Linked DNA regions of Homo sapiens. The protein of the gene in region 1 interacts with the protein of each later gene in a biochemical or structural test. Each region holds a gene or a part of one and is shown on either strand. Other genes may lie near its edges.

Evidence for each region. Proteins that work in one complex are often made in the same cells at the same time.
Region 2: the proteins of BOLA3 (region 1) and GLRX5 form a complex in vitro, tested with the Homo sapiens proteins (4 studies listed by BioGRID and IntAct, with this or other methods).

The regions. Positions count from the first base shown.
Region 1 is NC_000002.12:74,144,910-74,151,804, reverse strand, and holds the start of BOLA3 (bolA-like protein 3), read left to right. Parts: upstream 1-3,892; 5' UTR 3,893-3,930; coding exon 3,931-3,984; intron 3,985-6,501; coding exon 6,502-6,616; intron 6,617-6,895. UniProt on the Homo sapiens protein: Acts as a mitochondrial iron-sulfur (Fe-S) cluster assembly factor that facilitates (Fe-S) cluster insertion into a subset of mitochondrial proteins. Probably acts together with NFU1.
Region 2 is NC_000014.9:95,531,055-95,538,071, reverse strand, and holds the start of GLRX5 (glutaredoxin-related protein 5, mitochondrial precursor), read right to left. Parts: upstream 3,023-7,017; 5' UTR 2,983-3,022; coding exon 2,688-2,982; intron 1-2,687.

The sequences.
Region 1 (6,895 bases):
ATAACTCAGATAATCTTTGGGAGAGCCAGACTCTGGGTTTGAACCTGCACAGCCAGAAACAATGTCCAAACTATGCCATGGAGCTTCTCTGACAAATACCCCATTGATGTCCCCACTAGGTATGGACATTACAGCCTGCACTGTCCCCACTTAGGTGTGGACACTAGTCTGCACCTTTATCGCTGGCCACTAGATGCCAGTCTGCCACAACACCTCAAAAGCTAGCTACCTTTTTAGCTTTTTACTGGAGTCCTTTAGTAGGTTATCTCATTTAATCCATAAAGCAACCTGGAGAAAGTGACTGCAATTAAGAGGTATGCCAGAAATATTTCAGTATTCTTTAGACCATGCCACATAAGCTCAGACAAGTTCAAATAGCTAGTATATAGCAAGTCTGTTTCTCTGGATTGCATTTGCAAAAATTCTGCATGCTCAGCAGTGCTAGGAAGCTCTATAAAATGATGGTGCAACGAAAAATCATCCCAATGAGGTTAAAAAAGGAGATGCATCCAAAGAGTTCCTACCTAATGAATTTTCTGAGTTTCAGATGTATATATGTGTATGAAAGCTATGAGTGATCATGGACCAATACAACTGAAGAGAACAAGAGAATCTCGAGGTCACAGCAAAAAAAAGTAAGATGCAGAAAGGATTGACATTTCCTGGGACTAAATGCATTTCACTTTTGTTTTAATCACAAAGTAAAACTTACTTATTTGCTTCTGTCAAAAAAAAAAAAAAATACTAGAACTGTTGGAACTAATTTGGAAGCCCAAGATTCGTCAGATCGTCCTGCAAATCCTTTTCTAGAAAAGTTCAAACTTAGACCTATGGAGCGCAAATTGCTGAGCCTCTATCAGTTCTGTTCAGTAATTACAATGCATGCACTTTTTGTCCCATATTGGGCTGCTGACAGATGACTCAAGCAAGGCTCTGTCCTCAGGGAGCTTATAAACCAGTGAGAACAGACACATACATAAATTGATAGTTGTAAAAGGCCATAAGTGCAACAAAAGTTACAGGTAAGTTGCGGGCCCTAAGCTTACTGTGAGGCAGTCAGAGGTGGCTCTTTGGAGAAGACAAGGCTTGAACCTTAAAAGGTGGGCAACTGCATAACCAAACTTGTAGCATAGCTTATGAAGGGAGGTGCAAGTATAATATTACTGAAGGGTAGATTTCAGTTGGACAGGTAGATAGTGGTTAAATCATACAAAAGAACTTGAGAGTTTTGCCTGTAGGTAGGCGATGGGGAATCTGAAGGATTTCAAGTAGCAAATGTTTTCATTTCATTTTATTTTATTTATGTTTTTTAGACAAAGTCTCACTCTGTCGCCCAGGCTAGAGTGCAGTGGCTCAATCTCGGCTCACTGCAACCCCTGCCTCCTAGGTTCAAGCGATTCTCCTGCCTCAGCCTCCCAAGTAGCTGGGAGTAGAGGCATGTGCCACCATGTCTGGATAATTTTTGTATTTTTAGTAGAGATGGGGTTTCACCATGTTGACCAGGGTGGTCTTGAACTCCTGACCTCAGCTGATCCGCCTGCCTCAGCCTCCCAAAGTGCTGGGATTACAGGCATGAACCACTATGCCCGGCCTAAATGTTTTCATTTCAGATGGCTCTGACAGCCTAGGAGGAACTGAAGATAAGAGGAGGAGAATGGGGCAGAGAGTAGCTCAGAGTAACAGATAGTATGGGCAACTGTTAAATTATGGGGAAGAGGAAGGTTAGAGATAAGCAAAAGTACCTTTTTTTTTTTTTTTTTTGAGACAAAAAGCTGGTAGAAAGGCCACCGCAGCCAGCTAATGGTTTGTATTTTTAGTAGAGATGGGGTTTCGCCAATGTTGGCCAGGCTGTTCTCGAACTTCTGACCTTGGGTGATCAGTGCGCCTCGGCCTCCCAAAGTCTTTGGATTACAGGTGTGAACCACCTTGCCTGGCCAAAAGTACCATTTTAAATAAAGAAAAGGAGGAATTCTGCCAATACAAATCTGTGAGCTTGCCATGGGTCACTTGGTTACAAGTGACAAACCCATTAAACTGCCTTCAGTGCTCATTTCCAGCATTGCTGGTTTCCAGCTGTACAAAGTCAAACATTTGTCTCCTTTTATCTGTTTTCTTCTTTATCTTGCTTCATTTCCAAAGTAGTTCTCCCTGCATGGTTGCAAAGATGGTTGCCAGCAACTCCAGCCTTTCTACCAGCTTAGCAACATAGAGGAAAAAGATCAATGTCTGGGAACAACAGACACTGGGGAATACAAGACTGGGGAAGGAGGAAGGGGGCAAGGGTTGAAACTACCTATTGGGTACTATGCTCATTACCTGAAGGACGGATTCGTTCATACTCCAAACCTCAGCACCATGCAATATACCTCTGTAACAAGCCTGCATATATACCCCCGATTCTAAAATAGAAGTTGCAAAAGGAAGTCCCTCTACCAATTCTCATTGGTCTGGCTCAGACCATGGGGCCGACCCTAAACCAGTCTCTGATTAGCCAGACTTGGGTCCTGTTTCCATTCCTAAAGCTGGGGATAGGTGCGCCTCATCTAAACCATGCTGTCTGAATAGCAAGGGAATGGTTCACCATTACTACCCTGCTTGAGAAAAAATTTTTTTGACAGTTTAAATTGCATCATTGACAGCAATGAAGAAAACTTAGCAAATCATCTCTAAACATTTTAAAAGAATGAAGCAGAAAATGTAAGACAGGCTAGTAATTGATCCAAAGGAGAAATTCTGAAGGCCAGAACATAGGAGTCAGTTAATACTGTAATAAATAAATTAGACAATATCCATATATAACAACTATAGGTCCAATCCATCCAAGTGCAACGCTGAAGGGACGTATTGATTGCATAGGCCAGAATGTTGGCAAAAAGCTGGTAAATCCTGCAGGGTGCCACCAGACCGCGTGCTGCAAACAAATAACAGCTAGAGAGAGGAGAGGCTTGGTTGAATTTCGGCCTTGACTGGTCTGAAGACTCCAGAGGCGGGACGAATTTGCGGACAGTTCTACCCCATCCCACATGGCGTCAGCTTCCCTTCCATTCTCATGACTCCATGGTCCATGGCTCCAACCTGGGCCTCTGTTAGGCTGTGTCCTGTGGCACCTTAAACTCAGGCAAATTAAGAACTGTTCGTGGACTCTGCTCAGCCCCCACCTAACCCTCCATCCAAGTCATTGTCCAAGCCAGAAACTGGAGTCATCTCAGATACCTTCCCACTCACACCTCCACATGCAGTCGCTCGATTCCATTCACCTCCCAAGTGTCTCAGTTCATTCTTCCATCCCTCCCGCCACTGGTTTAGTTAGGCCCCTCCATTCTCACCTGGACCATCGCGGTAGCCTCGGAGCTTCTGACTGTGTCTCTGGTTGCAGCCCCTACACGCTCTCTTCCTTACAGGAGCGGAGCGATCTTTCTCAAGCGCGAATCAAATCCTTCCACGAGTCCCCGCACCTGGAGCGAAGGCCAAACTCCTCAGCTTAGAAGCTAGACTGCCAGAGTAGGGAGTGGGAATGGAAAAGTACATCAGGAGCACGAGGGGTATTCGGATGAGGGAAGGCCAGTATAGGGCGCCGAGACCTTGGAGTGTTTCTGAGCTGAGGAGGAATGAGACTTTCACGCGGGCAAGGGGACCCTATCCATGAAACAGGCCCTGGGGAGACTGAAGGAGAGCGGCGCGAGCGAAGGCAGAGGGCGGGGCCCCGAGGTCGGCAGGCGCTGCAGTGTCGGGGGTGGCGAGTCAGCCAGGGCCAGGGGATGGCGGGGTGGGGCCGGAGCCAGGCGACCGGAGGCCTCCGGGGCGGGGCCGGGAGGCTGACGGCCTCCGGGCGGCAGGGGGCGGCCTCTCCCACGGCGGCGGCTCTCGGTCCCCCGCTCCGCGTCTTTCGGGCATACAGTGACCTCGGGCGGCGGGTCACGTCGGCCGGGCATGGCTGCATGGAGCCCGGCCGCGGCAGCGCCTCTCCTCCGCGGGATCCGCGGGGTGAGCGTGGGCAGGGTCGGGGCTGCTCTCCCCGGGACGGGAGCTGCGGAGGGACCGCGGGGCCGGCGGCTGTCGGGGCTTGAGGACTGGCTCCCGGAGGGCGCGCGCGGCACTGGCAATGGGGGGCTCCTCTTCCTTTCTCTCATTCATTCTTTCATTCATTCATTCACTCAGCGACAACGGCATTCGAAATTTCAAGCTCTGGCGCGCTCTAGGGGAGCTCCCGAGCTGGGTGGAGGTTGGAGGTCAGGCGGACAGACACATGAACAGTCATAATACTGCGGGCACAGGAAAAAAAAAGGATTGGTTTACCGAGCAGAAGACAGGAGTCATAGCCCAGAGTCAAGGCGTGGGTGCGAGGGACTGCAGCGGGGCCGGGGCCTTGGGAAGGTCGACTGGGCCTCTGACCTTGATCCTCCTCCAAATCCCACACTACCGGAGCAGAACCCAAGCAGGGGGCACTTCCCACGCGCTCTCCTAATCTCTCCCCCTTTCTGAACCATCCTTTGCTTCAGCTCATACCATTCTTTCTCTTAACTTTCATTTTCCTTCTCCCCTGGTTCTGAACCTGCCTGCCCTGTGCATGAAGAGAAGTTCTTCCACTGCGGTGACTTTCAGCGTGGACAGTGATCATCTGGGGATGTCAGTTGATTGTTCCACTAAAGGCCGCTGCCCACAGATCCGCTAAGATGAAAGGCTTCTCCCAAGGATTCTGCAACGCTCACCTCTCTCACCCCTTAGTAGCTGCCGATTCTGTCTGCCATCTGGTTACTCTCTGCCTTTACCCTCAAGATTCTGCCCCCAGAAGCAGCTCCACCCCACCCTCACTCCTGGCAATCCTGTCCAGCCTCTCAACATCGAGTTTCTGTCCCTCCACACAGCAGGCAGACAATCACACTCTGGACCTTTCTCCTGTCTTGCATTTCTGTCCCTAATTGACTAGTTCTTCCCCTGCTCATTCATTCATCCAGCACCAAGTGCCTCTGAGGGCCTGCCCTGGGGTCAGCTCTGGGATGCTGCCGGACTCATTCCTGGCCTATAAGACCAGTGGTGAGAGAGCCAGTGCACAGCTCATTTTAAAGGAGGTGCTCTGAGATTCTGTGACACAGGACCCTGCTCTGAGCTATCAGGAAGGACTGAGGGGTAGAGGGGTGGGACCTTCAGCACCAGCACCCATGAACGGCCCTAGTGTCCTCCAACCTGTCATCCACGTCTAGTCAGGGACCAGTGCCCGGTGCTTCCATCATTGTAATGCCTCTTACTTGGGCATCTCTCCTGACTCGCTCCAGAAGGCACTGTTTCCTGCAGGTTACTTTGGTCCCATGAGCCTGGGTTCTATCACCTGGAGTCCCATCTCCTGTCCCATACAGTCCACAATCTTTAGCCTGGCATTCAAGGCCTGCCACACTCCATTCCCAGTCTGCCTTTTCAGCATGCACTCAGCCCAGCCAAGTGACTGCCGACCTGCTTTTCTGCTCCTTCACTACTAACTGTTGAGACGTGTTCCATCAGAAACATGGGCTCCCCTGGCCGGGCGTGGTGGCTCATGCCTGTAATCCTAGAATTTTGGGAGGTTGAGGTGGGTGGATCACCTGAGGTCAGGGGTTTGAGACCAGCCTGGCCAACATGGTGAAACCTCATCTCTACTAAAAATACAAAAATTTGCCGAGCGTGGTGGTGGGTGCCTGGAATCCCAGCTACTCAGGAGGCTGGGGCAGGAGAATCGCTTGAACCCGGGAGGTGGAAGTTGCAGTGAGCTGAGATTGTGCCACTGCACTCCAGCCTGGGTAACAGAGCAAAACTCTGTCTCAAAAAAAAAAAAAAAGGAAACACAAACACAGGTTCCCCCATGGTAGCCATTGGGGAAGGGGTGTTGTTGCCAATGGTAAACAACCTACAGATACTCCTTCTTCAGGTTCTTTCATAGAATTCTGACTTTGCTCCCAGTGAGAAGGAGTGCATGATGAAGGATAGCTGGCTAATTGAGCAGTGGGCTGTGAGGTCACATCCCACTGGGGAGGGCGAGACATGTTAATCAGGCCTAAAGGCGAGGGAGTGTGGAATTTGGCCCCACCATCCAGGGCAGTGGATGGCCTAGTGGTATGGATCTGAGGCAGGCTATCCAGCTTTTCTGGCTCTGTATCTTACCGAATTCAACCTTGGGCACATTACTGTGTGCCTCAGTTTCCTTACCTATAAAACTATCGGCATAATAGTGTCACAACATTATATGGAAGCAAACATCTCTTGAATTAGGTTTGGGGCCTCTTGTCTCTGGAGTCAAATTGAGTTATTAACAATCATCCTGTCCCCGCCAATAAAAGTTTATTCTGTGTTTTGGGGCACTTACATGGACTCCTGATACCACAGAGCCCCTCTGACATAACCCATGGCTGTGCTGGCGAGGGCTCAGGGGCCTGCCTTGCAGGGGGAATGGCAGGCGGGCCTGCACAGTGGCCCAGCTCAGGGGCAACAGCATCTTCCTCTGCCCTGACCTTCCTCTCTGTTCTGTGGCAGCTTCCACTTCACCATCGGATGTTTGCCACTCAGACTGAGGGGGAGCTCAGAGTGACCCAAATTCTCAAAGAAAAGTTTCCACGAGCTACAGCTATAAAAGTCACTGACATTTCAGGTAAGGTTTCTCTCACTCTTCCTACGGCGCTTGGATAAGATTTTGCCCTTTGGAAGGACAGAGGGTCAGGGGCTTGGAGGAGGGGGCTTGCTGCTGGTGAGTGGCTTCTCAAGATGTGTTGCTGCTGGACAGGTGGAGCTCGGCTGCCCCCACCTCATGGGATGGCAGTCAGGATTCAGAAATATCAGAGGGAAACTGAGGACAAGGCGCAGCTGGGAGGACTCAAGGTTGCCAGCCTGGCTCAGCTCAGACAAGGTCCCTCTCAGTCACCCTAGAGCT
Region 2 (7,017 bases), on another chromosome or scaffold:
ATACAATAGTTTCCATAAATTACAGGTGATTTTCCTTCTTTAAACTTTTCAGTGTTTTCTACATTGCTTCCATGAGCATAAGTTCCTTTATTAAGACCAGGATTAGGAAATGATGATGTCAGTCTACTGGGACCTGATCCCTTTGTGACTGTCTTCTGTGTGCACTCCAGATAAAAAGAGAAGGACAAGAAGGTCTTGAGAAGGCCAGAACACAATGCTGCCTCATAGTCACCTTTGTTCCTTGGGTCACAGTCTCAAGATGTGTCTGTATCACACTCCTGGGAACCCAGTACTCAAAACTAGGAAAGAATGTTTTCCTCCGGTTTAGGCACTTTGTAAAGTTCAGGTCTCCTTGGCATAAGAACCAACAAAAGGCCAGTTTTGCAAGAGCTCCGTTCCTATTACTAGAAATGACCTTGGATCTGGTGTACAAACATAGTTTCGGCTGGCAAAAGCAAGCATCGGACAGCCCGTTAGTTGCTCTTGGTAAATAAAGCTGTATAGGGAAGAGGGGAAGAGTCTTAATAACCTGGCTGAACTAATCCCCATTTGGGGAACGTGCTTTTACCACCCTGCCCAGTCCAAATGTTAATACTTACTAATCTTTACTTTTCTAATCAATAAAAGAGGTATGTTATATTCAATATATATGCAACGCGTTTATTAACCAAAATAGCAATCTGATGAAACTCAGTGGTCAAGGAATGTAAGGGTTAAATTCCTGTCGCTGCTGTTTGAAAACTTAAGAAAGTAAGCTCAGAAACCAGACACCAGACGTGGATAAAAGACAGAAAAATAAAATGTTATCAGTACATATTCGTATTTTTGCTCCTATTTTCCGTTTACTAGCTATATTCCAGCATATCTCATTTCCAGTTATATTAAACAAGAGAAAATAAATTCACAAACCAAAGACCCTCGAAACATGATACTAAGCGAGATAACAACACCACTTTTTTACTAGTGCCATATTGGCAATTTGCAGGGGACTCCCTGCAAGGTCTCTGTCAAAAGACTGCAAAATAGTTACTCCTCTTTTAAGCAGAGAAGCTGTCTTCGAAGGAAGACTGCAGGTCCCTTGCCTTGCACATGATAAAACTGAGCCCAGTAACTGGTGGCATACTAGTTGACAAGGAAGACAAAAGGGTCATGAGAATAACACATGGTAATATTACATATACGTGGTAATTTGAACCTGCCCTCTCGACTCCTCAACTCAACATGCTTTCTAGGTCCCACCCACCACCACTATCACCTACAGCAAATGGAGGATCAGTTATCCCCAAGAGTCTTTAAGGACTAGATAATCTGGGAAAAAATACATTTGAAAACCATCAAGTGCTAATACGAAGCCAGCTACCATTTACCGGGTGCTTTCTGTGCCAGGTAAAATAATACACACTTTCTATAATTTTTACTTTGGCTTCCTAACACAAACTTTGCCAAATTGTCTCATTATCCTCAAATGCAGGTGAGTGACTTAAGTTTTACACCTGATTAGCCACAGAAGAGGATGTCAACCCAAAGCTTTTCCAAACACCAGCCTGTCTCATCATTGTAAGCAATGACTATGATTAGTAATTTCGAATTTAGAGTAACAGAGAACCTGGCACCTATTTTTAGCACACAACTGGCACCTCTTTTTAGCTAGGGACATGCAGGGACTCAGTCACTGAAAGTCTCTAACTGGGATGCAGGTATCCTAAGTCACTCTCTAGAAGGAAAAGGTACAGCCTTCCCAGTTTTCCACCAACCCTGACCATCCTGGCCAAGGAGCAGGCCCTTGTGCCTGGCCTCTTCCTCCTCCCCTACTCAGATAAGACTGGCGAATGCACGTGGAGTACTTGGAAAAGATGCTTATTAGCTGCAGCCTTCCCTCTCCCGGCCTAATCCATCTGGTCCCTGGTGCCCTGGCCCCCTGGGCTCCAAGGCTGAGCCAGTGAGTTAGCCCAGGGCCCAGGAGCCAGGGCTGCTTCTTTTCCCCACAAACCTCTCCAAGCCCTGGCCCACATAAATTCAGCCCTGTGCTTGAGTATCTAAAGCCAAATGTCATGACTCTTCCCCGACAACATAGATCCCGACTAAGGTCAGCCGACAGCTGTCCCAACCCTTTGCTTGTAGCAACCACAGAGGATGATGCTTGACACCCTGAGCCGTGAGCCAAGCGAGATCAGCCTCCGACCTCACTAGCCTCAAGGGCAACCTCAGCCCTCTCCCCACCATCGACAGCCCTAGACCTTACCCACGAGTAGGCCAATGGCTTCCAACCTCCCCAAAGTGTCCGCGAAAGTACCTATCTCACAGTGGGTCCTTACTATGAGTTTCCTAACCGTGCAGAGCAGTCAGGCAGCGGGCCACCCTCCTCCGAGTCAGTCATTGACAAATCGCCCCGAAACGCCTATATTAGCTCGAAGTGAGGATAAGTGAACCTTTAGGACTTTACCTACTGCTCAAGTTGGCAACAGTACAGAGCCCCAGATCCTCAAGACCCAGTGAAATCAACTACACCCTCAGCCCAGACTCTACTCCAGGGCAGTACTCCTCGCCCTAACCCGGCTCGAACCTTCAGACAGACCCCGGCGGATGGAGCCCCGCTCCCCAGCCCGGCGCGGCGGAACCCCTCGGCCTCGTGCAGCGATGCTCCTGGGCCCGGGGCGGAGGGCGCCTGCCCGGCACACTGGCCTGACCTTGTCGGAGCTCCGGGTCGTCCAGCACGTTGTAGGCCGCGTAATCGCGGACGCCGTGCAGCCGCAGGATCTGCACCACGGCGTTGCTGAAGCCGCACTGGGGCTGCTCCGGCGTCCCCTTGAGGAAGACCACCACCTTGTCCTTCTTCACCAGCGCGTCCAACTGCTCCGCCGAGCCGCCGCCGCCCGCGCCCGAGCCCGCCGCCCGCACGCCCGGACCCCAAAGGCCACCGCCGCCCGCGCCGCGCCCCCAGCGGAGCAGAGCCGCCGCAGCTCGGCCGAGGGACCCGCTCATCTCCGCACGCAAGCCGGAGCCCACGACGGCCCGGGCCCACAGCTGGCCACCCAGAGCGCTCCCCGGCCCGCGGCAGTCCGACCCGCCCCCTGGAGGCCCTCATTGGGCCGGCTCTAAACTGCCCTCCGTGATTGGACAATACTGATCAGTAATTACTCGATTCCACCAATCATGTTGCTCGTCCCGCCCGGCAGGTAGGAGGTGGGCCTTATGCCGGAGCCTCATCCTACTGCCTTACTATTGGTCGTCGGCAACCGCTTTGTTAGTTAATTGGAGAGACTGGATGTCCATCAGGGTCACGCTTGCAGGGCAACGAGAGGCAAAACAAGAGGGAAGACGACTTTCCTCCTGTGAGCCAATGAGGCCAGCTGGACTACGCCGAGACAACTGGGAGAGGCGCGGGACTCGCCCGTTCCGCGGAACGCCGGGAAGGGGTCACCTCCTGATGAAGTTTCCGGTTCCGGTGTCAGCGGCGGTTGAATTGCCATGGCAATGCGGTGGGCGCGCGCTTGTCGTGTTGGTCTCTTGGGAGGTAGCGGGGCTAGGCCGGGCGGGTATCCGCCTCTCCCAGCTTAGGTGAGCGTCCCCGGGCGCCTCCGGAGCGCCGCGGCCGCATGCAGTTCGTCGTGGCGGGGAGCCGGAGCCTGACCGGGGTTCCAGCGCTCGGGCCGTAGCCTTGGCTCCTGGACTTTCCCTGGCTCCGCCGCCACGTGGGAGCTGAGGCTCTGGGGCTTCCGCCTCCGGCGCGCGATTATTTCTCTAGAACAGTTTTCATTTTTAAAATTTGTAAAGCGCTTTTGCCTGTGTGATTTCCTCTGGGTTTTTTTTTTTTTTCTTCCTTTTTGTAGAGACGGAATTGGCGGCGGGGGCGGGGGGTCGATGTCTCACTTTTTTGCCCAGGCTGGTCTCGAACTCCTGGCTTCAAGGGATCCTCCTGCCTCGGCCTCTTAAAGTGCTGGGATTACAGGCGTGAGCCACCGCCCCCGGCCGCCTCTGAGTTTCCAGCCTCGTTGGCCCTCCAGCCTTTTAACCTGTTGGGCCTAGGATCAGGAAAGGTTTGTTGAATGGGGAACTAAGAAGTGAATTCGTTCGTTCGACAAACGTTTCCTGAGCAGCCGCTGGGTGCTAGGCGCAGTGCCAGCGCGGAATGTCCAGGGAGACCTGGTGCCCAAAGCTTGGACCCATCGTGAGAAATGAGAAGCAGATACAAAGCAGTGTGGGAGTGCAGAGGAGACAAAGCAAGCCTCATCAGGCCCATTGCTTGCTCTGCTCTCCCTTGTACTTACCAGTGCTTGACAATATACAGTTATTTACTAGCTTGGTTATTGACTTCCTACCCAGCACTCAGTTTTATTCACTGCTGTATCCTCAGTGCCTAGGACGATGCTTGGAACGTGGTAAGTGCTCCTATTGGCGGGAAGAATAAATCCGGAAGAGCAGGACCAGTGGACTTGCTACATAATCTGTAGTCTTGGAGCCGCACAGGGTTGGTGGTACCCTCGAGCACACCAGACTTGCAGAAAAAGCATACTCCAGAGGAAGCTGAGGCATGCCTGCTCGAGAGCCAGCTGTTCCATGTGCAATTTTCCTCTGATAGTTTCTGGTCACTGTTGCCACGGTGATAATGACTGGGCTATGTCATTATCTATCCGCCAACAGTAAGAGAAGCTTTGCAGTCGAGATATTGTTTAGCAGATGGAGTGTTTTCTGTTGAACACTAAGTACTGCCACAAGTTACTTTTTTTTTTTTAAACTTTGAGTATTTTTTTACAATGTTGCTGGAGGTGATCTGTTTATGCTTTGAGAGTGTTCGAATTTAAAATCAGAAAATCATGTCAGTGAGTGAGTCTTTCAAATAATCCTTCGGCATGAAACCTGAGCCTAGTAAACTATGAAAGTAAACTCGGCACATTACCCGAAAGTCTCAATGTCATATTTTCACCCCCATCAATATTATTGATGATTGCTCATTTTCTAATGTGGGACCTGAAATTTACCAGGTGCTTAAAGAATCTTTTTGTTTTTCAGATTCATTGATTCCAGGTAAATCAGAGGAACAAGCAACATGAACAGAAATATGTAGAAAAAGCTATTATGCAGAAGCATAATTGTTGTTTCAGAAGTCCAGCATCTGGTGCACTTAACAATAGAGAATATATTAAACTCTTTCCAAAATAACCTGTTGTTCCTACCTGTGTTGTAAGTGTTTTGTTTGTTTTTAAGTAAATATTGGTGATTTGTTGCCAAAAACCTAAACTGTTTGTTGCTGTCAACTTAAATAACGAACAGAGAGAGGCTCTCTAAAAGAAAATGGCATTTATTCAGGAATAGAGCACTGCAATGAGAAAATGCATGCGATAGTTAACTGTGTGTATCCTGGGAGATAGAGGAAGACAAAGGTCTTTAAAGGAAAAATGAGGAGGGTTACATAATTGTTTTGAGATAATTATTTTTGACTACAAGGATCAGTAACAAAGGTGACACCAGTCCCAGGTTGGACAGGCAGGTGCTCGGCAGGCATTGCAGAAGTATTTTTTGTGTAAGATTGAGATGGCCTTTGTGCAGGATTGTGGTTTTGGAATCTTCTGTGATCGTTTTTGCTATCAGGCATTTATGCTTGCGAACTCTTTATGGCCTTCCCTGTGTCTATTTTGATTCCACCTTTCTCATTGCCCACTCTAAACTGTAATTCTGCTTTTATGTTGACTGAGATCAGGAGAAGAATTTGCAAACTTATATCCTGAGACAGAACAGTAATGAGGAGTATCGTGTTCCTTACCTAATGTATAATATTGGGCTCAGAAGCAGTTGTCTTTTTTATTTGTTGAACGTTGTATTAAGTTGAGAATGCAGCTGCCATTAAAGATTAAGAGTAATCCTTGAGAAGGAAGAGTACAAAGCCTGTGTTTTGCTAAATCATAGTGAAGTTGCCGTGTTTTTGTAGAATATGATAAGAACATACAGTGTGTGAAATGCTAAGGATATGGAAAAGCATGTTGGTGCTCTTTCAAGGAGCTATTTTGATAGCATGAGCAAGGGCAGGAAACAGATCATGTATCTGAACCAAAGAAATTGAAACAATACATCTAAATTTAAATTTTTAATAAAACAACCCAAAATATAGTGAAATACTTAGCACCAAACATCAGTGATCTTAAGAAGCAAAGAAAACAGTATTCAAAATACTTCGTCCAAAGTATCAGACTTTTGCATAAAGTTTGGCATTTTGGTTTTGAGATTCCTCTTTAGTCCTATGATGAAAACATGACAAAATATACATCTTAAATAAACAGTTGTCATCAGTCTGCATCTATGACCAGATGTTTTGGGTGTTTTGAGTAAATGGCCTGTCTTAGCATGTGATGGCTTCCTGCCTCGTGAACATTAGTGAAGAGGTGAGGGTGGGAAGTACTCAGGAACTTCTGAGAATCCTGGGATTTGAGTCACAGGATTGGTTAAACCCCAAACTAAATAATCATGCCGTGTAAACATGCTGACTCAGGCATCCTAAAAATGTTTTTCTTCCTTGTGTTTATTTATAGATAAGGCTTTACTATATTTGGTAGAACTCCTGTTTTCTATCCACTTCTCCAAAAACAAATTCGCCATTGAATTCATCGTGTAAACCTCCACATATCTGAGATAGCTTCTTCCGTTTATCAGCCCCAAATGAAGAACTAGAGTTCAGATTATTGAACTGAAGGTGATGCTTTATCTGAGCACTCCACATGTCAGTGTTTCTGTACCTTTACTTTTTTAAAAAATTATTTTTTAAAAAGATGAGGTCTCAGTAGGTTGCCCAGACTGGTCTCCAACACCTGGTCTCGAATACTCCTCCCGCCTTGCCCTCCCAAAGTGCTAGGGTTACAGGTGTGAGCCGCCGCACTGGCCCTGTTCATTTTATGCTCAGTGCTGCATTCTTGTTTGTTCTTAGAAAATGAGAGGGTGTGTTTGCATGAGAACGTGTGGTACAGAAGTGTCTATCTGAGCTGGCCAGAACATTCTGCAAATGTCATATTAAGGGCAAAATGGCTG